3 separate regions of the Homo sapiens genome follow, and all the other regions are linked to region 1. The links come from fine-mapping of genetic effects on gene expression. A gene starts in region 1. Each other region holds a variant in brackets. All regions are shown on one strand. Distances are between the middles of the regions.

The links. PIP is the estimated chance that this variant, and not a neighbour inherited with it, causes the effect.
Region 2: its variant is fine-mapped to the expression of DDX28 in monocytes after LPS (Quach 2016, PIP 0.95).
Region 3: its variant is fine-mapped to the expression of DDX28 in monocytes (BLUEPRINT, PIP 0.95).

Annotation. Positions count from the first base shown.
Region 1 is chr16:68,019,134-68,027,312 of GRCh38, forward strand. It overlaps DDX28 (DEAD-box helicase 28), which reads right to left and starts at 4,099. Exons shown (of 1, transcript NM_018380.4): 1 at 1,783-4,099. The coding sequence starts at 4,069. The coding sequence ends at 2,447. It overlaps DUS2 (dihydrouridine synthase 2), which reads left to right and starts at 4,151. Exons shown (of 17, transcript NM_017803.5): 1 at 4,151-4,218; 2 at 6,282-6,361. RefSeq lists enhancers at 2,800-3,550, 3,551-4,301, 4,012-4,251.
Region 2 is chr16:68,060,703-68,068,881 of GRCh38, forward strand. DUS2 (dihydrouridine synthase 2) reads left to right here. Exons shown (of 17, transcript NM_017803.5): 8 at 364-411; 9 at 5,615-5,680; 10 at 5,864-5,934. Among named protein-coding and RNA genes, the nearest start is that of NFATC3, 21 kb to the right of the region's middle. RefSeq lists an enhancer at 801-850. The variant G/GC (reference allele first, on the strand shown) is at 4,666.
Region 3 is chr16:68,262,432-68,270,610 of GRCh38, forward strand. SLC7A6 (solute carrier family 7 member 6) reads left to right here and starts at 2,095. Exons shown (of 11, transcript NM_003983.6): 1 at 2,095-2,145; 2 at 4,162-4,290. It overlaps LOC124903704 (a long non-coding RNA gene), which reads right to left and starts at 2,026. Exons shown (of 3, transcript XR_007065096.1): 1 at 1,937-2,026; 2 at 756-983; 3 at 230-265. RefSeq lists a silencer at 1,981-2,260 and an enhancer at 2,633-3,832. The variant CAT/C (reference allele first, on the strand shown) is at 4,080.

The DNA.
Region 1 (8,179 bases):
GCCTGGCCAACATGGCAAAACTCTGTCTCTACTAAAAATATAAAAACTAGCCGGGCATGGTGGTGTGCACCTCTAATCCCAGCTACTCAGGAGGCTGAGGCCCGAGAATTGCTTGAACTTGGGAGGCAGAGGTTGCAGTGAGCCGAGATTGTGCCACTGCACTCCAGCCTGGGTGACAGAGTTAAGACTCTGTTTCAAAAAAAAAAAAAAAGATAACAATACAAAATCATAACCTTATCATTACACTGCCCTCTCTTTAAATAGGCAAACAATGACAATCTTATCACTATGAAAGGATGAGGTTTAGCTCCCAGCAGCAGCCCAGGTCAGCACTGTGGAGAGGTACCAAAAGGTCATTAGGGCCAGGCGTGGCGGCTCACACCTGTAATCCTAGCACTTTGCGAGGTGGAGGCAGGAGTATCTCTTGAGCCCAGGAATTTGAGACCAGCGTGGGTAACATAGCTAGACCTTGTGTCTATTTTTTTTATATTTAAAAAAAGGCGATTTGGTCCTACTCAAAGGAAACAGGCAACTCTGCCCTTAGCCTGATCAGGACCACACTAGGAGCAGCCTTTGGTTCAGTGTGGCCAAGAACTTCCTACCAAAGAGAGATGACCTTAAGGAGAGGTCTCCCTATTACTGGCCTTGAAAAAGCAAACATGGGACATTTATTTAGTGGGGTTATTGCAGAGGGGATATGCCCAGGAGGTAGAGACGGCCCGATCTTTGGAGACTGGGTCACCCCGGTTGAGAATCATAGCACCTTCTCTCATAAGTTGCTTTAGTGTGGTGCTAATTGATGGCCTGCAGGGAGTGGTAGGAGGTAAAATATCAAGGGGATGGTTCCTGGGAAGTCTGTTCTGGCAGGAGGGCTAGCATGAGATCACTCAGATTCTCCAAGGCTCTGGAGAGAGTACTTGTCCGGAAGCATCCCTCTTGTCTTGTGGGGGTACAAAGCCTTACAGGAATTTGCTGGGACTCTGGGAAAGGCAGTACAGCATAGACAAATGGTTTATCAATTTGGGAGGGCCCAAGTATCACCTGGGGGAGTTTACAAAGAGTATTCTCAGGTCAAACTTTAGAGAGCTTAATCCCATCTGGAGTGGGGCTCAGGATTCTGTTATTTTTTTTGAGACAGAATATCAGCTCTGTCACCCAGGCTGGAGTGCAGAAGTGCAATTTTGGCTCACTGAAACCTTCGCCTCCAGAATTCAAGCCATTCTTGTGCCTCAGCCTCCCAAGTATTTGGGATTACAGGCGTGCACCACCACATTCAGCTAATTTTTTTGTATTTTTAATAGAGATGGGGTTTCGCATGTTTACCAGGCTGGTCTTAAACTCCTGACCTCAGGTGATCCTCCTGCCTCAGCCTCCCAAAGTGCTGGCATTACAGGCGTGAGCCACCACACCCGGCTTTTTTTTTTTTTTTTTTTTGAGATGGAGTCTTGCTCTGTCCCCTAGGCTGGAGTGTAGTGGTATGATCTTGGCTCACTGCAACCTCCGCCTCCCAGGTTCAAGTGATTCTCCTGCCTCAGCCTCCCGAGTAGCTGGGACTACAGGCGCGTGCCACCACGCCGGGTTGATTTTTGTAATTTTTTTTTGTGTATATATATATATACACATATATATATACACGTATATATATATACACGTATATATATATATACATATATATATATACGTATATATATGTATGTGTATATATATATATACGTATGTATATATATATATATATATATATATATACGTATATATATATATAAAGAAAATGCTATATGGTTATTTTTCCAGTTTTGTAAAACCGTTTAATCATCTCTCCTCTTTCTCGGCTACCGAGTTGGGATAGAAGGCAGAACCTGAAAATGTACAAGCAAAACTTCTGTGTTCGTCTACCCTTTACTTTTCTGCCAGTACCTTCCAGAGATTTCGCCAAGACGCCCGTTTGTCTTGGGCATTGTTAGAGAGTAACTCTGTCTACTGCTAGTCACATTTCCTTTCCTTTCCTTTCCCTGGGGGCTTAATGGATACCTTTTTGGGGGCAGGAAATACAAACTAAATGTTTATAAATGAAAACATCAACTGAAAGAGCCTTTGTCCTAGATGTGGAGGTTTGGTGTATGAATCCTCAGAAACTACTGAATTCCGCCCCGGTGCTAATTATTCTTAGGGGAGGCACATAAAAACATCATTTATTGTTAGAAATCATGACATGATACAAAGTCAAAATCCACTTGTGTCTTGCTAAAGACTACAGAAAGCCATGCTCAGCAGCTTCTTCTCCAATGCTGGCCAGCAGCGTACCTTTCCAAGTCACAAAGCAGTTCATCCCGCCCTCAAGGAGCCGACAGGGCAGCCCAGAGCCTCCCACTGACAAGTGTGGTCACCCACTCAAGATACTGGGAAAGATCCCTGTTCTAGCATCACATTTTAATCAGATTTGTCAAAATCAGGTTGCTTGGGGCAAAGGCTCTTTCACCGAGGATGCTAGTCCTGGAAGACTTCTCCTTCGGCGAGCCGCCAGCTCAATCTTCTGAACCAGGCTCACATCCCAGGGATGGGTCACAAAACTGATGACGGTGCCTGGCACCTCGCTCCCCACACGGCCCACTCTCCCTGCTCTGTGGATGTAATCTTGCAGCGTTGGGGGGAAATCATAATTGACAACCAGCTCCACACCAGTGCTGTCCAGGCCCCGAGAGGCTATGTCTGTGCAGAGAAGTATGTCTCGGGAGCTCTTCTGGAAGGACTGGAAGATTCCTACCCTCATCAAGGCTGGCATTTGCCCCTGCAACCTTAGGTGTTGGATTTTGTGGTCATCCAGAATATATCCCAGCCAGTTCACAGTGCTGGAGCTATTACAGAACACCAGAACAGTTCCTGAGGGACCAGTCCTTTCTGCTCTGTCACGATGCTTGAGGATGTGCACCAGCTCGGCCACCTTATCTGCTCCCTTCAGTCTCAGAAATGTCTGTTTCACATGAGGCATGATACAGTGGAGCTTGGAGCTGGTGATGGTGGTGACAGCATCTGGGCTGGCGACTTTATTCAGCAACTGGCCTACACCTTCGGGAAATGTGGCTCCTACCAGCACTAACTGAGCTTTGGGATTGAAGGGGTCTTCCAAGTCAGCTGGGCCTTCTGCTATGTGGCTCTTCTCTAAGATGTAGTCCACCAGTTCCAGGAAGCTTTCATCCAGCAGTGTGTCTGCCTCATCCAACACCAAGAAGGAGAGTTGCTCCAGACTGATCAGTCGACTTTTCAGGGCCTTCCACAGAGCCCCTGGAGTGGCCACAAGCACATCTGCTGAAGGCTGTCTGGACAGCTGCAGCCTGATCCTACGCATGCCGTGGCCTCCCTCCAGGTCCCGCACCAGCAGGCCCAAGGAGCGGCCCAAGGGTTGGGCCACAGCCCGCACCTGTTGGGCCAATTCTCGGGAAGGAACAAGGACCAGGCCTCGGGGCGCGGGGATAGGAAGGGAGTCCAGGCTTGGCTGGCCCAAGAGCCGTTGAAGCAGCGGCAGGAGGTAGCTGAGAGTCTTGCCACTGCCGGTTTCTGCGGCGCAAACGACATGGCGGCCGCGAAGTAGTGAGGGGATGGTGCTAGACTGCACGGTTGTGGGCTGAACGACTTCAGGCGCAGCCTCCTGTAGTGCGTGCAGCACACGGGGCTCCAGGCCCAGGTCAGCAAAGCTGCCCTTAGACGAGAGCTTTCGCACCGCTGGCGCCTCCTGTTGCGCGCGCTCGATGGAGAAGTGGTCCCGACGCGCGCGTCGACTCTTCCAGCCTTGAGAGGCTAGCGGCGCGCGCTCCCAACGGCCCAGTGTGAGGCGCGCCGGCTGGTTCAACTCCGGCCGCCGCGCCGAAACCAGCAGCGGTCCGGGTCGAACCAGCACCGGCCTCGGGAGGTTCCGCCGCCTGCTCTGCCGCTGTTCCAACTGCCGCTGTAGAGCCACTGGGATGCGCACCACCGGCAGGGGTTCGTCGGGACTGCGGACCGTGAGGCCCCGTCGCGGCGCCAGGAGCAACCGAGTCACGAGGGAAAAGAGCCGCACCGGCCGCGTTAGAGCCATGTTTCCCTTAGTGCGGGAGAAGCGCACATCAGTGACGTCACGGACGCGCCGCGACCTCGCGTACGGTGGCTGGCGAGGCTCAGTACGGTGTGTGGAGCTGGAGCACCGTGAGGAAGAAGCGAGGTTCTTTTTAAGAGTTCAGCTGCGAGGTCTGTAGCTCCGAATAGGGGATGGCGACATCCAGACCCGGCCAGCCTTGGGGAAGGGCGCGTCGTGGAGGCAGGACTGGAGGCTGGCGATACGAGGCGGCAGTGGGGCCTTGACCCAATGGACCATGAGGGCGGAGGGCTTCTGGCGATTGGTTACCTGGTTCCTGGGATTCTCTTTAGTTGTTCCTCATTGCCCTGAGATAGCTTGTCCCGTGCTGGTATCCGAGGTTGCAGCTGTTTTCCCAGATGTGTTCCCTGCGCAGGGTCTGGTAATCCGTGTTTATTGAGAGTTTGAATGAATGATCAGGCCTAGGGGCCGAGACAGGGGTCTGAAGTCATAGATCTGGGCTCAACCCCTCACCCTCTCTGTCTGTGAGCCCAGAGTGCAAGCTGATGGCTTTCAGCTTCTTCTCTCTCTCAAGTGGGAGATAAGGTCTTCAGGTTTTATTTCAAGTTGGGTCATCTTTTCTTCACAGTTATTTTCCTTCCTTTTAAGCCAAGGTTCACTCTCTACTCCCTCGTCACGCGTCCCAACTTCTCATCCAGAACCCACCCCTCTTGCAGCCCGCTCAGCTCCACTGGCTTCCCCGTCAGAAACCTGAATTACCTAAAATAGTAGTAAGAAGGGTGCTGCGACCCTACAAAGTGATCAAGTACGTGGCTTATCATGTAGCCCTGGTCAGGCAGAATATTTTACCTGAATTCAGATATTCGGGTTGTAAAAACAAGAACTATACGAGTCACTTTTTTTTTTTTTTTTTCTGAGACACAGTCTCGTTCTGTCACCCAGGCTGGAGTGCAGTGGCGCAATCTCGGCTCACTGCAACCTCCACCTCCTGGGTTCAGGTGATTCTCCTGCCTCTGCCTCCCAAGTAGCTGAGACTACAGCCGTACACCACCCACGCCCGGCTAATTTTTTCTGTTTTTAGTAGAGACAGGGTTTCACTATGTAGGCCTGGCTGGTCTCGAACTCCTGGCCTCAAGCGATCTTCCCACCTCGGCCTCCCAAAGTGATGGGATTATAAGCGTGAGCCACCATGCCCAACAGATACTTCTTGAACAGATCTGGAAAATGGGTGTCAGATCTTTTCTGTAATTTGCAGTGCCTGGGGTGGGAGATAAGGTAAATATTTATGGATTAACTCTCTGGGAGGTTCGTAACATCTGGAGAAAACGTTTTAGTTTCATCAAATACCAATGAAAAGATAAAAACTTTGCTTTTTTTGGAATAGTATGAGGAAAAACTTTCACAATTTTAAGTACACTCTACCCTTGTGCTACACAATTAGACTTTCTGGAGAGTTACCAGATAAATCAGAGGAAGAGAGGCTTTTTTTCTCCACAAGAAAATATCTGGAAGTAGGAAGAGAAAGTTTTGAGTAGTGATGGGTGAATGAACAGTCATTGGATAGGGTAGTGGTTCTAAAACAAGGGTGATTTTGCCCTTTCCCTCCCACCATATTTGACAATGGCTGGATACTTTTTTTTTTTTTTTTTTTATAGACAGTCTCACTGTGTTGCCCAGGCTGGAGTACAGTGGTGCGATGTCAGCTCACTGCAGTCTCTGCCTTCTGGGTTCAAGGGATTCTCCTGCATCAGCCATCTGAGTAGCTGGGATTAGAGGTGTGCGCTACCACTCCCAGCTAATTTTTGTATTTTTAATAGAGACAGGGTTTCACTACGTTGGGCAGGCTGGTCTCAAACTCCTGACCTCATGATTTGCCCACCTTGGTCTCCCAAAGTGCTGAGATTACAGGTGTGAGCCGCTGTGCCCGGCCCAATTCTATGCTACTTTTATGATTCTTTCCAAACTCAGGGCTTCTCCTTATCCAAATAGTTCCTTGGGGCCAGGCTCATGCCTGTAATCCCAGCTACTCGGGAGGCTGAGGCAGGATAATCGTTTGAACCCGGGAGGCGGAGGTTGTTGCAGTGAGCCGAGATCGCACCATTGCACTCCAGCCTGGGCGACAGGGCGAGACTCTGTCTCAAAAAAAAAAAAAAAAGGTCCCTTGGATGTTTGTCCCAACAGGTTTCATCCATTTCCATGTGCCACTGTTTTTCAGATATCAAACAAAGAATTACTCTGTACAAAGCCAGAACACATATATCAAAGTAATCCTGAAGTATCAGAACAAAATAATAGGTATGTATATGCATTTGGGTTTTTGGGTTTTGTTCAAATATCCAGGGTAGGGTAGCTGGTTAATATATAGTTGTTTTCTCATTATGCTTGAGTCCTTACAATATGATTACCTCAAAATTTCACAGGAGTTAGAGCTTGCCTAAGCCTGTCTGTGTCCGTGGCCACTAATTTCTTCTTGTCACATCACTAGACACTGCCTACCTTTTTTCCCCCTCACTCACAGAGGACATTGATTAACTTCTAAATGTTTTCTGAGATATTTTTATAAGTAGTGCTTTAGAAATAGGAAAGGTATCCTTATTGTGAAAAAAAATCTAAGCTCCTGAGATCAGGAGCTTGGTGTGTTCCTTGGATCTCAGTTAATAATGGTATATTCATTCATTCATTCAATCATTCATTCAACAAATACTTCCTGAGCACCACGCATGTGCCAGGCATTGGTAGTGAGGAAAACAGCCAAAATCCCTGCCCTTGTGGAGTTTACATTCTGATTTAATTGATTTGGGTTAAGGCCTAGACAAGGTCTTGCTCTGTCACCCAGGCTAGACTTCAGTGGTGCCATCTCGACTCACTGTAACCTCTGCCTCCCAGGTTCAAGTGATTCTTCTGCCTCAGCCACCCCAGTAGGTGGGATTACAGGCACGTGCTACCAAACCCGGCTAATTTCTGTATTTTTAGTAGAGATGAGGTTTTGCCATTTTGACCAGGCTGATCTCGAACTCCTGACCTCAGTTGATCTGCCTGCCTTGGCCTCCCGAAGTGCTGGGATTACAGATGTGAGCCATTGTGCCCAGCCGAGAAATTGGTATTTTTAGAAACCTCTCCAGATGTAACTAGGCTTGAGAATCACAGTTATAAATGAAGCACTTTGGGAATTGCAAAGCATTACAGCAATAAAAAGTGCTATTGGTATTACTTTATTGTTCCTCCATTTTCCCACCTGTAGCAGGGCTGTGCGCAGGTAATCATATTTTCAGTCATTATCACTATAGTATTCCTGGACCCTTTGACCTTCCTTCTCATCCAGCTCCCTACCTGCTCTTTGTTTTTTACCCTCTGGTCTACCTTCTGTTTCCCGAGTGATGTTATTAAAGCACAGCTAGGCCTGGTGTGGTGGCTCACGCCTGTAATCCCAGCACTTTGAGAGGCCAAGGCGGGCAGATCACGAGGTCAGGAGTTCAAGACCAGTCTGGCAAACGTGGTGAAACCCTTTCTTTACAAAAATACAAAAATTAGCTGAGCATGGTGGCAGGCACCTGTAATCCCAGCTACTCGGGAGGCTGAAGTGGAAGAATTGCTTGAACCCGGGAGGCGGAGGTTGCAGTGACCTGAGATTGTGCCATTGCATTCCAGACTGGGTGATAGAGCAAGAGTCTATCTGAAAAAAAAAAAAAAAAAAAAAGCACAGCTATGGCCATGTTACCCTTTGACTCAAAAGCCATTCATGAATCCTTGTTGCCTGCAGATTATTTCCTAATCAGTATCCAGAATTGGGCTCAACCTCTTCTGTTGCTTTCTTATGTGAATCTTGTTCACTCAAGTGATGGCTCCATGCAAGTTGGCCAAAGGGCTTGTAGTCCTTTACTGGGTAAGCCAGAGATTGGAGTAGTCATTCGTCTCCTCTAAAACCAAACTTGAGTGATAACAAAGCACTTTAAATGCACTTTGGCTGGGATAGAGTTCTTCTGTGACTGAAGCATGGAGTGGATCATAGCTCTTGTTGCACTTGGTCCATTAACTTCTTGTTTTTTTTTTTTTTTGGAGATGGAGTTTTGCTCTTGTTGCCCAGGCTAGAGTGCAGTGGCATGATCTCAGCTT
Region 2 (8,179 bases), 42 kb after region 1:
CTAGGTGTGGTTGTGCATGCCTGCAATCCTGGCTACTCAGGATGCAGAGGAAGGAGAATCACTTGAACTGGGGAGGTGGAGGTTGCAGTGAGCCGAGATTGCGCCACTGCACTCCAGCCTGGGTGACAGAGCGAGAATCTGTCTCAAAAAAAAAAGAAAAAAAATTATCACACTTCAGTCCCAGATGTTATGGGCACAGATACTGCTGCCCTCCTACTTGTTTAAAAGAAGTGCCGGTTGCCAGTGGGCCTTGGTCCCTTGGAAGTGAGTGCCGGGGTGACGCTCAGTTGCCAGACCCCATCCCATGGAGAGGGCCATAGTGTCTCCCAGATGTAAGAAGACCTTTTGTGTGTTTCTCCTTAGGGAGGAATGGGAGCTGCCCTGCTGTCAGACCCTGACAAGATTGAGAAGGTAAGTCCTCCACGAGTGAAAGCAGGGGTCCTCAAACACAGCTCCAAACTAGAATTGTCTAGAACGCCTCCTTCCACCAATACCAGATTTACTGATGTCCACCCAGTTTCTCTCCCTGAGGCCTAGCGATTTCCAAAAAATTTTCCAGTGATTTTGACATGCAGCTAAGTTTGGGAACCCCCGAGCCAGCCTACAGCAGCCTTGATGTTCCTAAAAAGCCCAGAGCAAGAGACATGTCAATGAAGAGCCAGGGGTCCTGAGGACTCACAGAGAACCTCCTCTGTATTTCCTGTCTCCCTTCTGGGAAGGTCTTGAGAGCAGAGGCCAGCCCACCTGTGGTGAGGACGGGCTCAGTGGCCATATGTGTTTGTATGTGTGTGGGTGGATTGGCCTCTCCCAGGGGGCTTGATGAGAGGAGCAGTGGGTCCCCTATGTCCTGAAAGAGTCTACCCCAGCCCTTGGAGAGAAGCCCGGGCCAGGGTCAGAGGAGGCAAGCTGAAGTTAGTCTCTCTCTGTTCCCCTTTCTTTGGTGATTCTGTAGGCTAGCTTAATGAGGCCCTGGGGACAGGTTTGTGTTCCTCTCCCAGTCTGCCAGCTCTTTCCTTTTAGCTCCTTTGTTTTCCTTTTCATTCTCTATCGCTACTTCCCTGTCTGGGCTTTAAGCCTCATCCTGCTTCCCAGAGGCTAGAGCGACTTGGGACTTAGGCATCACCAATGAGAGCTGCCATCATTGCCAATGAGAGCTGCATGGTTGCTGTGCCAGCAGCCCAACCCTGCATGTTCCTCCAGCCCCACTGTCTCTGGGACATAGGAAGACCACTGTGCTTGCTGGCTACATGCCTTCTCGTTTTTCCCATGTGCAGCCAGAGATACTCTATCTATAGTGCACCTGTATAATGTGCCTTTCTTTTTTTTGAGACAGAGTCTTGCTCTGTCACCCAGGCTGGAGTGCAGTGGCACAATCTCAGCTCACTGCAACCTCTGCCTCCAGGTTTCAAGCAATTCTTCTGCCTCAACCTCCTGAGTAGCTGGGATTACAGGCGCCCACGACGACGCCTGGCTAATTTTTGTATTTTTAGTAGAGATGGGGTTTTGTCATGTTGGCCACGCTGGTCTTGAACTCCTGACCTCAGGTGATCTGCCCATCTTGGCCTCCCAAAGTGCTGGGATTACAGATGTGAGCCACTGTGCCCAGCCATAATGTGCCTTTCATTTGATCCTGAAACCCCTTGAAGTAGATAGGATTGGCAGTTATCTCCATTTGATCAAGGACAATAGACTAAAGCACAGAGAGAGAAAATAATTTGCTTAAGATCATATAGTAGGCCGGGCGTGGTGGCTCATGCCTGTAATCCCAGCACTTTGGGAGGCTGAGGCGGGCAGATCACAAGGTCAGGAGATCGAGACCATTCTGGCTAACACGGTGAAACCCAGTCTCTACTAAAAATACAAAAAATTAGCTGGGCGTGGTGGCGGGTGCCTGTGGTCCCAGCTACTCAGGAGGCTGAGGCAGGAGAATGGCATAAACCCGGGAGGCAGAGGTTGCAGTGAGCAGAGATCGTGCCACTGCACTCCAGCCTGGGCGACAGAGCAAGACTCCGTCTCAAAAAAAAAAAAAAAAAAAAAAGATCATATAGTAAATAAGTGGCAGGCAGAGCCAGCTTGTGAACTATAGTCTCTTCTGACTCCTAGTGTCAGCACCCTCTCCAGTAGCATCTCAGGTTCAAGGTGCCTGGGTATAGTTTATAAGTGTCAGGTCAATAGGCACCTCAACTTGGAAATCTCCAGTTAAGACACTTGTGTGCAGGGTGGAGTGGAAGTAGACATCTTGGATGTCAAATTGGTTTCCACACCTAGGAGAGGGGGCCCCAGCAGGGAGGATGTGGTTCACAACATGAGCACACAGGCATTTTTGTTATCCTCCAGCCTCCTCTCTTCTCAGACCCAGGCTGTTGGCTCTGTCCTCTCTACTGCCCCTCTTTGAATAAGGCAGATTTCATCCATGAGGCAGCAGAGATACACTCAACCTCAGAAGCTTAGTTCATTTCACTACTTCTCTGGTTGGGTACTCAGATGGGCCAGGTTGGACTGATAGATGGGGTTTGCCCCATGGTAGGGAGGTTGCAGGCTTCCACAACAAAGCCAGATGTGGCTTAGGTGTAGGGGCTGGATTCAATTCGGGTCCAGACTGTGTTGGCAAGCTGGGTGACCTGGGTGAGAGCTTTGCGGGTCCTTCCAGGCTTGGCGTTTTAGGCCCGTGGTTCCATCTGTGGGAGTATCTCAAGACCACCTCTAGAAATTTTCTCAAGATTCTTGTTTGGGGTTATGAAAAACTTTGGAAATACATAACATTGGTGGTTGTACAACATTGTGAATGTAATTAATGCCACTGAATTATACACTTAAAAATGTTTAAGATGGCAAATTTCATGTTATATATATTTTACCCCAGTTAGAAATAAAGGATGCTATCTGTTGAGAATTCTGCAGACCCTTGGGGTGAGTAGGGGTGGAGAGTGGGATATCAATCTCTTTGAGAAAGCTTCTACCAGGTAACTCTGATATATGCTCCCTGGATTAAGAACCTCAGTTTTATTTTATTTTTTTAAATATTTATTTATTTATTTTGAGAGGGAGTCTTGCTCTGCTGCCCAGGCTGGAGTGCAGTGGTGCGATCTCAGCTCACTGCAACATCCACCTCCTGGGTTCAAGTGATTCTCCTGCCTCAGCCTCTGAATAGCTGAGATTACAGGCATGCACCACAACACCCGGCTAATTTTTGTATTTTTAGTAGGTACGGGGTTTCACCATGTTGTTCAGGCTGGCCTTGAACACCTAACCTCAGGTGATCTGGCCTCCAAAAGTGCTGGGATTACAGGTGTGCGCAGGGCATCCCCCTTGTGTACACTGTACTTGGGCCATGGCTGACAATTGGCAGGGCCAGGACATGAACTCAGGTCTCAGTGCTTTCCAGGCCTATGCTTTCCTATCCTCATCTGCTGCCTCCCAGAAACCAGGGGAGTGAAGGAGACTGCTTTTCTTCAGTTGGCCAGTGGGTCTATTGAGGCAAGCCTGCTTGTAGGTAGATGTGCTGTTCCTCTGCTCAAATATGGACTTGTCTCTCATTCTTTCTCCCCAAAGACTTGGATCTGGAGAGTTGGTGTCCAGGAGAGTGTCATGCTAGAGCCTGGCCAGAAGACAATCTCTAGTTGCCATTTCCCCTCAGTGTGACCCTTGCAAGTGCCTAGGGTTTTTGGTTACCTAATTTCCTTCCTAGTCCTTAACACACACATGAAACACACAGAAATACTGAAGAAAGTACTGAGAGCTACTTGGATAAAATAGCAAAAGGAAGTTCTACAAGACAGAGAATTGGATCAGACCAGCTGGTGTTGCTTAAATCACCAAATGTCAGAGGATTCTAAGTGAGCACTTGTAATGGAACCTTTTAGAGATGTTGCTCTGAGCATGAAGGATGGGACTAGAATGAGAATTTTTATTGTATTTCTTGATGAACCTGTCAGTCCCGCCCTTAAAATGTAAGTGCCTCTTTAAGGCCTGCCAGGGTGACCCTAAGACCTCAGGCCAAGTCTGCCTCCTGGAGCAGCACCTAGAGACTGTTCCTTCCTGCCAGTCCCTGGCATTTGGGCCAGCAGGTCCTGTCTTGCTCATGAACTGTCTGTCAGTCCAGCCTCTTGATCTGATGTCTTCTGGAATGGCCTGCTTCATCCTGTCCCTGATAGGCCTCCACTACTGGTTTTTGCAACCTGGCTCTCTGCTGCCCCCGCCTGTCTAGAATCAAGACTGGCAGCAGCCACCTAGATATCCCCCTGCTCTGCTAGGCAGAGATCCAGTTCTTGGAAGAGGGTTCTTGGGATCATCTTTCCTCCAGCTTGCCTGGCCTGAAATTTCTGATGAGGGAAGAAGATAGCAATGACACAGACATGCAGTGTCATCTACACCTCTCTATCTCTGATTCTTGTGTGGTCTGGTCTTGCTACCTCCCTGTCACTTTCCTGCGTGACTTCTTGATCTTTCTTTGAAATCTTTTGCAATTGCTATGTGATAAGCACTTTTAAATATGTGCTTATCTTATGAGTATGTTGTCTTTTCCTTTGCCAGTTTCACTCATGTATGTCTGACTGCCCTAAAGAGGAATGCAGGCCCCCCTTAAGAGCCTTCCTGTTCCCTCACCCTGTAAGTCCTGGAACAACACTTAGGGAACATTCCCTTCACCCAGGAAAGAAGCTGTCT[G/GC]CCCCCCCGCTTTTTTTTTTTTTAATAGAAACAGGGATGGGCTAGGTGCAGTGGCTCAAGCCTGTCATCCCAGGACTTTGGGAGGATAAAACAGGTGGATTGCTTGAGCTCAGGAGTTCGAGACCAGCCTGGCCAACATGGTGGTCCCAGCTACTCTGGAGGCTGAAGTGGGAGGATGGCTTGAGCTAGGGAGGCAGAGGTTACAGTGAGCCAAGATTGTGCCACTGCACTCTAGCCTGGGAAACAGAGCCAGACCCTGTCTCAAAACAAAACAAACAAACAAACAAACAAAAAGGAAACAGGGTCTTGCTGTGTTGCCCAGGCTGGTCTCAAACTCCTGGCTTCAAGCAATCTTCCCACCTCAGCCTCTCAAAGTGTTGGGATTACAGGCATAAACCACCACACCCAGTTAGCTATGTGTTCTTTTTTTCTTACTTTTTTTTTTTTTTTAGCCGTGTGTTCTTAACCAAGGCTAGGCCTCAGAATGATTCTGAGGACGGGCTGGAGTGTGTTGGGCAGAGCCTTTTGAAAACACACATTCCTAAGCCCTTCCCCTAGAGACTGACTCAGGAAATAATAGTGTGGAATTCAAGAGTGTGTATTTCTTCAGTTCTCCAGATAATTCTGGTATTTGTCCTGGCAAAGGCTCAGTGAGCTGCACACAGGTGTACACGCGTACCCATTCACTCACTCATTCAGTATATTTGACAAATATGTGTATACCACTAGGTGCCAGGCAGGTGCTGGGGCTCCAGTATAGAACAAAGGCAGGTCCCTTGCCTCATGGAGCTTATGTGTGTATGTGTGTAACAGACACACACATGCATTCACACATATGCAAACTGTTCATGCCACCGGAATGCACAGCCTGTAGCGGAGTTAATTAGTACAGGCAGAGTGATGGTTTGTTCCAGAAGACATAGGTGCTCTTGTGTTTTCCTTTCTGCAGATCCTCAGCACTCTTGTTAAAGGGACACGCAGACCTGTGACCTGCAAGATTCGCATCCTGCCATCGGTAAGGATGGTGTGTTACATATGAAGGTCCATTCTCTCTGGTGATGTTGGATTTAGGTTTGTGAACGATTCTTGAGGTGCTAAATTAGGCTTGGAGGAGAGAGTAGAGCTGAGCCTACTTTAGGAGGCAGCAGCTGCTCCTTCTGGAGCTTCAGTAACCATCCTGTGTGGTCCTCCTCCTCAGCTAGAAGATACCCTGAGCCTTGTGAAGCGGATAGAGAGGACTGGCATTGCTGCCATCGCAGTTCATGGGAGGTGAGTGGTCACCTTTCTAGTGACTGGCAGGGAGGTCCTAACCCATCTTAGTGATCCTTCCTTAATTGATCTGTCACCCCAAGTGACAGCCAATTTCTCTTCTACATATTCAGCCTACCTCTGCCTAGCTCTTTGATATCTTATGAGTCTGGAGGGCAGGCAGACCCTGAATGGGCTTTTGCATTTGCCTTTCTTTCATTCATGGAGTGCCTATTGAGGGTAGGTACTGAGGTTTAGAGACACAGAGAGACTAAGAAAGGAGAAACACCTCTACTATCAGGATGTGTAAATGCTAGAGATTGAGTAATTTGCTCAAAATCATACCATGCAGCCAGTACGTGGTGGAATTCTGACCCTCATGAGAAAAATCTCATTTATTTCCTTCCCTCCCTCCCTCCCTCCCTTCCTTCCTTCCCTCCCTCCCTCCCTTCCTTCCTTCCCTCCCTCCCTCCTTCCTTCCCTCCTTCCTTCCTTCTTTCCTTCCTCCCCTCCCCTCCCCCTCCCTTCTCCCCTCCCTCTCCCATCTCCTCCCCTCTCCCCCCTCCCCTCCCATCTCCTCCCCTCTCCCCTCCCATCTCCTCCCCTCTCCCCTCCCATCTCCTCCCCTCTCCCTTCCCATCTCCTCCCCTCCCCCCTCCCCTCTCCTCTCCCCTCCTCTCCTCTCCTCCTCTTTGTCATTCTGTCACCCAGGCTGGAGTGCAGTAGCGCAGTCTTGGCTCACTGCAATCTCCATCTCCCGGGTTCAAGTGATTCTCCTGCCTCAGCCTCCCGAGTAGCTGAGATTACAGGTGCGCTCCACCATGCCCAGCTAATTTTTATATTTTTAGTAGAGACAGGGTTTCACCACGTTGGCCAGGCTGGTTTCAAACTCCTGATCTCAGGTGATCTGCCCACCTTGGCCTCCCAAAGTACTGGGATTACAGGCATGAGCCACCAGGCCCAGCCTCATTTTCTTTCTATTATATTGAGCAATGACTTCTCCCTTGAATAATCCCAGACAGACTGCTTTGTTTATGTGTTTTTCATTGTTGTTGTTGTTTTTTGAGACAGTCTTGCTCTGTTACCCAGGCTGGAGTGAAGTGGCACAATCATAGCTCACTGCAGCCTCAAACTCCTGGGCTCAAGTAATCCTCCTGCCTCAGCCTCCTGAGTAGCTGAAACTACAGGCACATGCCACCACACCTGGCTAATTTTTTATTTTTTTGTAGTGACGGGATCTCCTTATGTTGCCCAGGCTGGTCTCAAACTCCTGGGCTTAAGTGATCCTCCTGCCTCAGCCCCTCAAAGTGCTGGGATTACAGGCTTGAGCCACCATACCCAACCTATTCTTTTAAAGGCTCTGCCTCTCTTGTCTGCATTTGTTGGACTGCCAGCTGTCACAATGACTAAACAATCCTTCTAGCTGTAGCTAATGTACTCTATGCTGAGAGCTGAGGTTCTGAAGGCCACCCTTGGCTTACCATTCACACTTGTTCCCTGTGTCCAGGATGTGATTTTGTACAGCATCTCAGGTCAGTAGACTTGGGCCAGAGGGACCTCTCTTCTCTGAGTGATGTTCCTTTGGGCTTAGGGGTCTTATAGGAAGAGCCCAAGTTGTTGATTGTGCTCTTACAACATTTTCAGAGAAGGGAACCCAGAACTCCCTTCATACAAAGCAGAGCAAAGCAGAGTTGCTTGGGTTGAAGCCAGGAGGGAGGAGTACACACTTGTACACATATGCGCCTTCCCAAGGCAGCAGGCTTTGGATTCAGACTCCCTGGTTTGAGATCCCGGCTCTGCTGCTTGTTAGCTGTATATCCTTGGGAAATCACTTAACCTTTCTGAGCACAACATTCCTTGTTTAGAAATTAAGATAATTTCTACTTTATAGGGTTGTCCCAGGGCTTTTATGAGATTGTGAATATAAATCCTTGGCACAGTGCCTGGCATGTAGTATTCTTTCTCTCTCTTTTTTTTTTTTTTTTTTTTTTGAGACGGAGTCTTGCTCTGTTGCCCAGGCTGGAGTGCAGTGGCATGATCTCGGCTCACTGCAACCTTCGCCTCCTGGGTTCAAGCAATTCTCCTGCCTCAGCCTCCTGAGTAGCTGGGATTACAGGTGCCTGCCACCATGCCTGGCTTTTTTTTTTTTTTTTTTTGTATTTTTAGTAGAGATGGGGTTTCACCATGTTGGCCAGGCTGGTCTCAAACTCCTAACCTCAAATAATCCACCCACCTTGGCTTCCCAAAGTGCAGGGATTACAGGCGT
Region 3 (8,179 bases), 240 kb after region 1:
CTACTCTGGAGGCCGAGACAGGAGAATCACTGGAACCTGGGAGGCGGAGGCTGCAGTGAGCCAAGATGGCACCACTGCACTCCAGCCTGAGCAAGACAGAGCGAGATACATCTCAAAAAAAAAAAAAAAGATGAAATAAATCTGTAGTCCCAAGTAGGAAGCTGAGGCAGGAAGATCGCTTGAAACCAGGAGTTCGAGGCTGCAGTGAGCTATGATCACACCTGTGAATAGCCATTGCACTCCAGCCTGGGCAACAGCAAGATCTCTAAAAGCAAAAGAAAAGAATGGTTACAAATAAATGTATCCTGCAGGGTGGTCCTGAGGAACACTGATGGTGTTGGAGAACATCTGATTCAGGGTGTGGTGTACATTGGGCTTTCAGCTGATGGGCTACGTAACTGGGTATGAGACTGCAAAGCCAGACGGAGCTGGCATATGGTGTTTTTTTTTTTTTTTTTTTGAGATAGACTTTCGCTCTTATTGCCCAGGCTGGAGTGCAATGGCGCGATCTCGGCTTACTGCAACCTCTGCCTCCTGGGTTAAAGCGATTCTCCTGCCTCAGCCTCCTGAGTAGCTGCGATTACAGGCATGTGCCACCACACTCGGCTAATTTTGTATTTTTAGTAGAGACGGGGTTTCTCCATGTTGGTCAGGCTGGTCTCGAACTCCTGACCTCAAGGTGATCTGCCTGCCTCAGCCTCCCAAAGTTGTAGGATTACAGGCGTGAGCCACCAGGCCCGGCTGAGCCGGCATACCTTATATGAAGCTGTGGCAGGGACACGTGGGCTGGGTGCTGACACAAGTGTCCAGAGCTGTCCTTCTGCTCAGCCAGGGAGGCCGGAGGAACTGATCTGGGAGGCAAAGGGTGCAACTCGATTGATCCAAATATATACGTCCACTCACTGACACTTAGGGGAGGGGTTCCAAGCAGAGGGCAGGAGGGCAGCACCAGCGAGGATTCCTCAAGTATTGTCATCCCAGGCCTGCAGAGAGGAGAATGGAAGGGTTTTAGGCAGGGGAGATACAAAGTCATCGCAATCTGTATTCTAGGAGCATCCCCTACTCTGTGGAGATGGGGTAAGGGGAGCAGGATAGGGATTGAGAAGCCGTTGTGGCTGGGGAGAAGAAAACGAGGTATAGGCCGTGGGAGGAGTGGGGAGGAAGGGTCTGAGGTGCTACCCATCTCTGGCTGGGTCCCTGTCACTGGGTGGCAGGGAGCAGGGTCTTGGGTATGGTCTGGAACCAGAGGACGTGTACTTGTGGTCATAAGGCTGGGGGAAAAGATTCCAGGGCCCTGGAGAAAGTCAGTGCTTGAGGTGTGGACAGGAAATTTCGGAGGAGGGCTCAGGCGCCCATGAGGTCAGGAGGCTCTAGACAGAGAGCCCCAGAGCCACCAGAGGAAAAGGAACTCGAGAGAAAGATGGAGGAGCAAACAGAGGGAGGGGAAGGGGGCAGGAGGTGCAGCTCCCCCAAGAGGGGGGGCAGGAGGTGCAGCTCCCCCAAGAGGGGTGGCAGCCCTCTTGGGAAGATGAGGACAGAGCCCCAGGGAGGCCTGGGGTTGGCAAAGGGAGCCTGCAGTTTCTTTGTGGGTGCGGGGGCCTCAAGGGCTACGAGTCTGAGCTGTGCGTGTGTTTGGACAAGTCCCCAGAGTGTGTGTCTTCCTGGGGTTCCTAGACTGCGAGTGGCAGTGGCCCGGCGGCGGAGGCCGTTTGGATCCCTGTGTGAGCTGTAGGGGGCGCCCTGGGCGTCGGGCCCAGGTCAAGTGCGAGATAGGAACGGGGTGCGGGGGCCGATGAGAGCTCCCCGCGGGAATGTCCGCTGTGGACGCCCTCGGAGGCCCCATCTAACTCCAGGGCGGCGAGCGTGGCCGGGCCCAGTTCACGGGCTGCTCGAGCCCTGACGAGGCAGCTGGGGGCTGTCTGGCGTCCACGCTCACGTTCTGGGCCGGCGGACCCCGTACCGGCCAGGCCGTGGCGGCCACGGGGGCCCGGAAGCGCCGCCGCCAGCTGGCCCCGCACGGAACTGTGTCCCGACGCGGCGCGCGCTGTCGCGATCCGGCGGCGGGTGACGTGGCGGGGCGGGGCCTGAGCTGCCGCGGCGGCGGCGGCGCGACCGAGCATCCTGGCGGCGCCGGGCCACTGGGAGGTAACGGGCTGGGCCATGGGCGGGCGCGCCGGGAGCGGGGCCGGGGCTGGGCCGCGTTCTGTGGGAGCCGAACCCTGTGGGTCTTCGCTGCCGCCGTCGGGAGCGGGATGCGGCCCAGAAACAGCGCGGGGCTGGCCGATCGGGGCCGCGCGAGAGGCGCTGCGGGTGAGGGGGGGCGCCACGAGGAGAGAGGGACCTCGAGCGTGAGGGCCGAGTGTGGGAGAAACGCTGTATGGGTGCGAGCCCCGGAGGCTGATGGTGACCGCGAGGGAGCCAGTCTTGGGGTGTGCTGGCGACGCGGCGAGTGTGAGGGAGACCGGGGGTGTGTGTGGAGAGGGAAACCCCAGGTGCGAGGGTGACCGGGACGCTGAGTGCGCGGGCCGCGCCGCGAGCGTGAGACTGTGCGACGGTGACCCTGAGTGGGGCTGTGACTGCGCCTCCGACTGCAGGACGGAGAACCTGTGCTGTGTGGCGGCCGCGGTGGGGCAAAGAAAGACGCGGGCTCAGGACCTCAGGAGCCAGGCTTCCTGGGGCTGTCGCAAGAATGACGATTATCATTTTAAAATCAGTCCTTTTACTTTAGAGAATGCCGCAAGGTTTTGTGGCGTGCTGGAGCCTGGAGCGTTGGGCTGCTGGCGCTGGGGAACCCGCGTGCCCCTGGTGATTATGGCTCTTTTGAGCGTCCCTATAGCCTGTCATCTTGTGTGACTATCTCTCCTGAATGTGGGGAGATAGACGTGAAACATTCTGAAAATTCTTTGCTGGGCTCTAAGCAAACATGTTGTGTAATGGTCAGTATAAATAGGAATCAGGGTGTCGGCGAACACGTTTTTGAGTACCTCTTGTATGCCCTGGGCTTGGTGACACAGTTAAAAAGAATTCAGTCTCTGCCCTTGATAGGGGAAAAAGCCAGGGCAGCTCATCTCGCAGGGCGGCTGTTCAGTGCCCAGCCATCCGGGGCTTGTCTCTCAGAACTGCTCCCAGATTTCAGATCTGGGAGGAGCAGACTTGAAAGGCTGTGAGTACTTCCTTATATCAGTTCCACCTCTTTTTGGTGGCGGTGAGGCCTTTTGGGGACCTGCCCAGGCTGCCTGCATTACTCAGGTCCCATGTGTGCTGCGCAGACGGCTTTTGCTTCCCAACTTTGATCTCAGATCGTTATTCAAGTCGTTACACTGGAGTTTATTTTCCTGGCAAGTGTGTGGAAAACCACCAGCCTGATTTTCTCCTCTCTTCCTCTCCTTGTCCTCCTTCCCTATTTGGCCGTGGATGTATTTTTATTGCATATACCGGTTTTATGATCCCCATCTCCCTGGAACTTCTTAGTAGAAGAAATTTCCTGACCTTTGTGCTTCCTGCTGTAATTTCTTGGATGTATATTAGTTTCTAAAAAAGTTATGCAGGCCGGGCGCGGTGGCTCAGTCCTGTAATCCCAGCACTTTGGGAGGCCGAGGCAGGCGGATCACGGGGTCAGGAGATCGAGACCATCCTGGCTAACATGGTGAAATCCCGTCTCTACTAAAAATACAAAAATTGAGCCAGGTGTGGTGGTGGGCACCTGTAGTCCCACCTACTCGGGAGGCTGAGGCAGGAGAATGGCTTGAACCCGGGAGGCGGAGGTTGCAGTGAGCCAAGATTGCGCCATTGCACTCTAGCCTGGGCAACAGAGCGAGACTCCATCTCCAAAAAAAAAGAAAAAAAGTTATGTAAACGGTGCCCACGGGACCTGGGGCCCCAGAGCTGCCTAGACTTACATGATTTAATGTGACAAGGCCAGTTCTCTGACAGGTTTGGGCTGGCTACTTCAGTTATACCCACCCTGTGGGTGTCATGGAACCTGCTAGTAATTAGGACTGCCCCTGCCGGGCATGTAAAATTTAGATTTTACAAGGAAATATCATTCTGCTGCTTTCTTGGTTAATTAAAAATAATTA[CAT/C]ATATATATATATTTAAATCAGCTTTCTCAGGTTAAAAGAGTTCATTTTTTGATCAGTTCCCTCCCACTCTTTGTTGCAGAGTTTATGTGGCCGAGGCAGACAAGTGGAATTAGGCCTTGCTGCAGGGGACTTCATTTCCTTCTCAGTACTGGACCCATTTATGAGGAGGTGGCTTATGAAAGTGTGATGTTCGCGTATTTCTTGACAGGTGAATATTGTTGCGCTGTCTTTTCTTTTGTTTGTGTGATTTACAAAGAGTTTTTACTTGTATACAGTGTGAATACAATACTAGTAAACAGAATGGCTTACACATAATTAACAACTCTTTAGTATTACATATTAAATAACACTGTAATTTATTATAAAAATAAATTATACATTTATTTATATTACAATTCTTTATAAAGAGTAATTGTGGTGGGTTTTTTCTTTTTTTTTGGAGACAGTGTCTCACTCTGTCACCCAGGCTGGGGTGTGGTGGCGCAATCTCTGCTCACTGCAACCTCTGCCTCCTGGATTCAAGCGATTCTCCTGCCTCAGCCTCCCAAGTAGCTGGGATTACAGGCGCCCGCCACCATGCCCAGCTAATTATTGTATTTTTAGTAGAGACGGGGCTTTACCATGTTGGCCAGGCTGGTCACGAACTCCTGAGCTCAGGCAATCTGCCCGTCTCAGCCTCCCAATTGTGGTGGATTTTTTTTTTTTTTTTTTTTTTTTTGAGAAGGAGTTTCGCTCTCATTGCCCTGGCGGAGTGCAATGGTGCGATCTTGGCTCACTGTAACCTCCACCTCCCGGGTTCAAGTGATTCTCATGCCTCAACCTCCCGAGTAACTGGGATTACAGGTGCCCACCACCATGCCCGGACAATTTTTTGTATTTTTAGCAGAGATAGGGTTTCACTATGTTGGCCAGGCTGGTCCCGAACTCCTGACCTCAGGCGATCCACCCGCCTCAGCCTCCCAAAATGCTGGGATTACAGGTGTGAGACACCGCGCCTGGCCATAACTCAGAGAGTTTTATAAGAAAAAGTCCTCTGTGTTTTCACCATAGTTAAGATTTTGATTCAACCAGAGGGGGGAATAAAAAGATTTTGATGTATTTCTCTGTGATATAGCAAAATATTTTTTGGTCTTCAGCCCGTTTCCTAGCATACAACTCCTAAAATACTTAGAAAGATCAAAGTAATGTCTTTTTGTATGCTGATGGCTGGTGGCTGGCAGCCCCTAGAAAGCTTCAGGATGGGGGCTGGTCACTGGAAAGACCAAGTCAGGATTAGAGGGTTGGGACTTTGAGCCCTACCCCCAACCTCCGGGGAGGGGAGAAAGGAGGAGGGTGAGGTTAAGTTGATCACTAATGGCCAGTGGCTTAATCACTCATGCCTATGTAATGAAGCCTCTATAAAAACCCAAGAGGCTGGGGGTTTGGGGAGCTTCCGGATAGCTGGACATGTGGAGGTTCCTGGATGGTACTTCTCCCTGGGAGGACAAGGAAAGTCTGTGACCCTTCCCCCATATGTGGCTCTGCAAACCTCTTCATCTGTATCCTTTGTAATAGCCTTTATAATATACAAGTAAAGGTAAGTAAGTGTTTCTCTGAGTTCTGTGAGCCGCTCTAGCAAATTAATTGAACTGAAAGAGGAGTCTTGGGAGCCCCAACTTGAAACAGTTCGGTCAGAAGTTCAGGAGGCTTGGATTTGTGCCAGGTATCCTGTTGGGGAGGGGCAGTCTTGTGGAACTGAGCCCTTCTGCTGTGGGATCTGATGCTGTCTCCAGGTAGATAGTGTTGGGATTGAACTGGAGGACACTCAGCTGGTGTCCCTGGGGAGAAATGATTGCTTGTTAGTGGGGAACCCTCCCCCTCCGGCATTTGGTCACAGAACTCTTCTGTGTTGATTATTGTGGTGTGAGAGTACACAGTAAAAATGGTTTTGAGTTTTTCCAAACATTCTCAATAGCATTTTTTCCTTTAGTCATTACAAAAATTTTGGTTTCAAATCCACTTTGTAAAACTTCCTTTGTAATCGAGCTTTTCCCCCCTTTCATCCCGTTTTCTGATGTAATTGAATTGTGATAAATTCATTTATTCCAAAAATTGCTTGTGGCAGTTTCGTGGTTAAATTTTCATGGGGAAATTTTGGTAGTCTGTTAAATTCCTTTATTACCTGCTGCAGGAGACTGCAGGAATTTAAAATTTTTAAAAATTTTTTTGTTGGCTGGGTGTGGTGGCTCACGCCTGTAATCCCAGCACTTTGGGAAGCCGAGGCAGGCGGATCACCTGAGGTCCCAGGAGTCCGAGACCAGCCTGACCAATATGGTGAAACCCCGTCTCTACTAAATACAAAAAATTAGCTGGGTGTGGTGGCGCATGCCTGTAATCCCAGCTACTCGGAAAGCTGAGGCAGGAGAATAGCTTGAACCCAGGAGGCGGAGGTTGCAGTGAGCCAAGATCGCGTCATTGCACTCCAGCGTGGGCAACGAGCGAAACTCCGTCTAAAAAAAAAAAGAGCAAAAATACGTATTAAAAAATATTTACCTAGGCTATTTGATATTGCCCCACAGGTTGATGTTCTGTTCTATTTTTTCACTTTCTCCATTTTGACCCTTTTGGTTTTCATCTCACTGCTAAAGTTCCACATTTGTTTCTGCATGCTGTTCAACTTTTTCAGTAGAACCTTAAATGTATCAAACACAATTATTTTAAATTCCTTGTTTGATGTTTCCATTATCTGGGTCATCTCTCAATATGGTCCTATTGATTACTTTTCCTCTTGATAGTGGGTTGTTTTTCTTGCTTTTTTTATGTTGCTTGTAACTTGTTACTGATTGCCAGATACCGTGTGTGGAACAGTAGAGACTGAGGTATATAGTATTTATTTTGGGAACTGGGTACAGCTCTTCTTTGCTAGACTGTTTGTATGGGAGTTTGAACTCCTAGTCAGGAGACAGTAGTGTTTGGGTGTTATTGTTGCTATGGTTACGTTAGGTGCACCAATGACTTCAAATTCTTCTCATGTTTCCTTGCCAGCTTACGGTTGGTTTGCAGGAGGGAGGCTTTTTCTCAGTGGTTATCCTCCATCCATACCCTCAGTTTATTAGCCAGGCATGGTAGTGCACACCTGTAGTCCCAGCTACTTGGGAGGCTGAGGCAGGAGAATCCCTCGAACCCAGGAGGTGGAGGTTACAGTGAGCCAAGATTGTACCACTGCACTGCAGCCTGCGTGACAAAGCAAGACTCTGTCTCAAAAAAAAAAAAAAGAAAGAAAAAAGGTCTCACTCGGTCATCTCACTCTGTCACCAAGGCTGGAGTGCCCGTAGTGCCATCATGGTTCACTGCAGCCTCCCAACTCCTGAACTCAAACTTACCTCTTAGCTTTCTGAGTAAATAGCTGGGGCTATAGGCGTGTGCCATCATGCCTGGCTACTTTTTAATTTTTTTTTGTAGAGATGGGGTCTTGCTATGTTGCCCAGGCTAGTCTCGAACTCTTGGCCTCAAGTTCCTCCAGCCTTAGCCTCCAGAGTAGCTGAGATTACAGGTGTAAGCCACTGCGTCCAGCCACCCTCAGCTTTAGGATTTCTCTGTGCACCTATGCCTCAGTGCACAGTCTCAGTGGTAGACTACTGTTGCTTGTTCCTGGGTGCTTGCTAACCTGGTGGTAGGGAGTAGGGATTTCTCTGTTGTCTGGTTCAGCCTCAGTCTTAAGCAGGCCCTGTTTGTTTCCCTGGGTCTTGGGAGTGGATCTTTCTGGGTGCTCCTGCCCTTTTCCCAGGAGAAAGACACCTCCGGTGGTCTTGCCCAGAATTTCCTACCCCTCCTCCAGGCATAGAGGTTTTTTTTTTCTTTTATCCTGCCCCAGCTGCCTCAGGAGTGACAGAGTTTGCTGCCCTTTCCCAGGGGTTTATGGTTTTTATTCTTTAGAGGAGAAGGGTATAGGTTGGCCTTTGTATTTTCCCTCCCATAAGCCAGCACTACCAAGAGCGGTTTTCTCAGGTTACTTGCCCAGTATTTCTTCTGAGTAACCACTGAGGTCTATGGAAAAAACCTGAGTGTCTGTGGCTCTTACTAACCCACACTTGACATTTGGTAATTTTTAAAAAAAT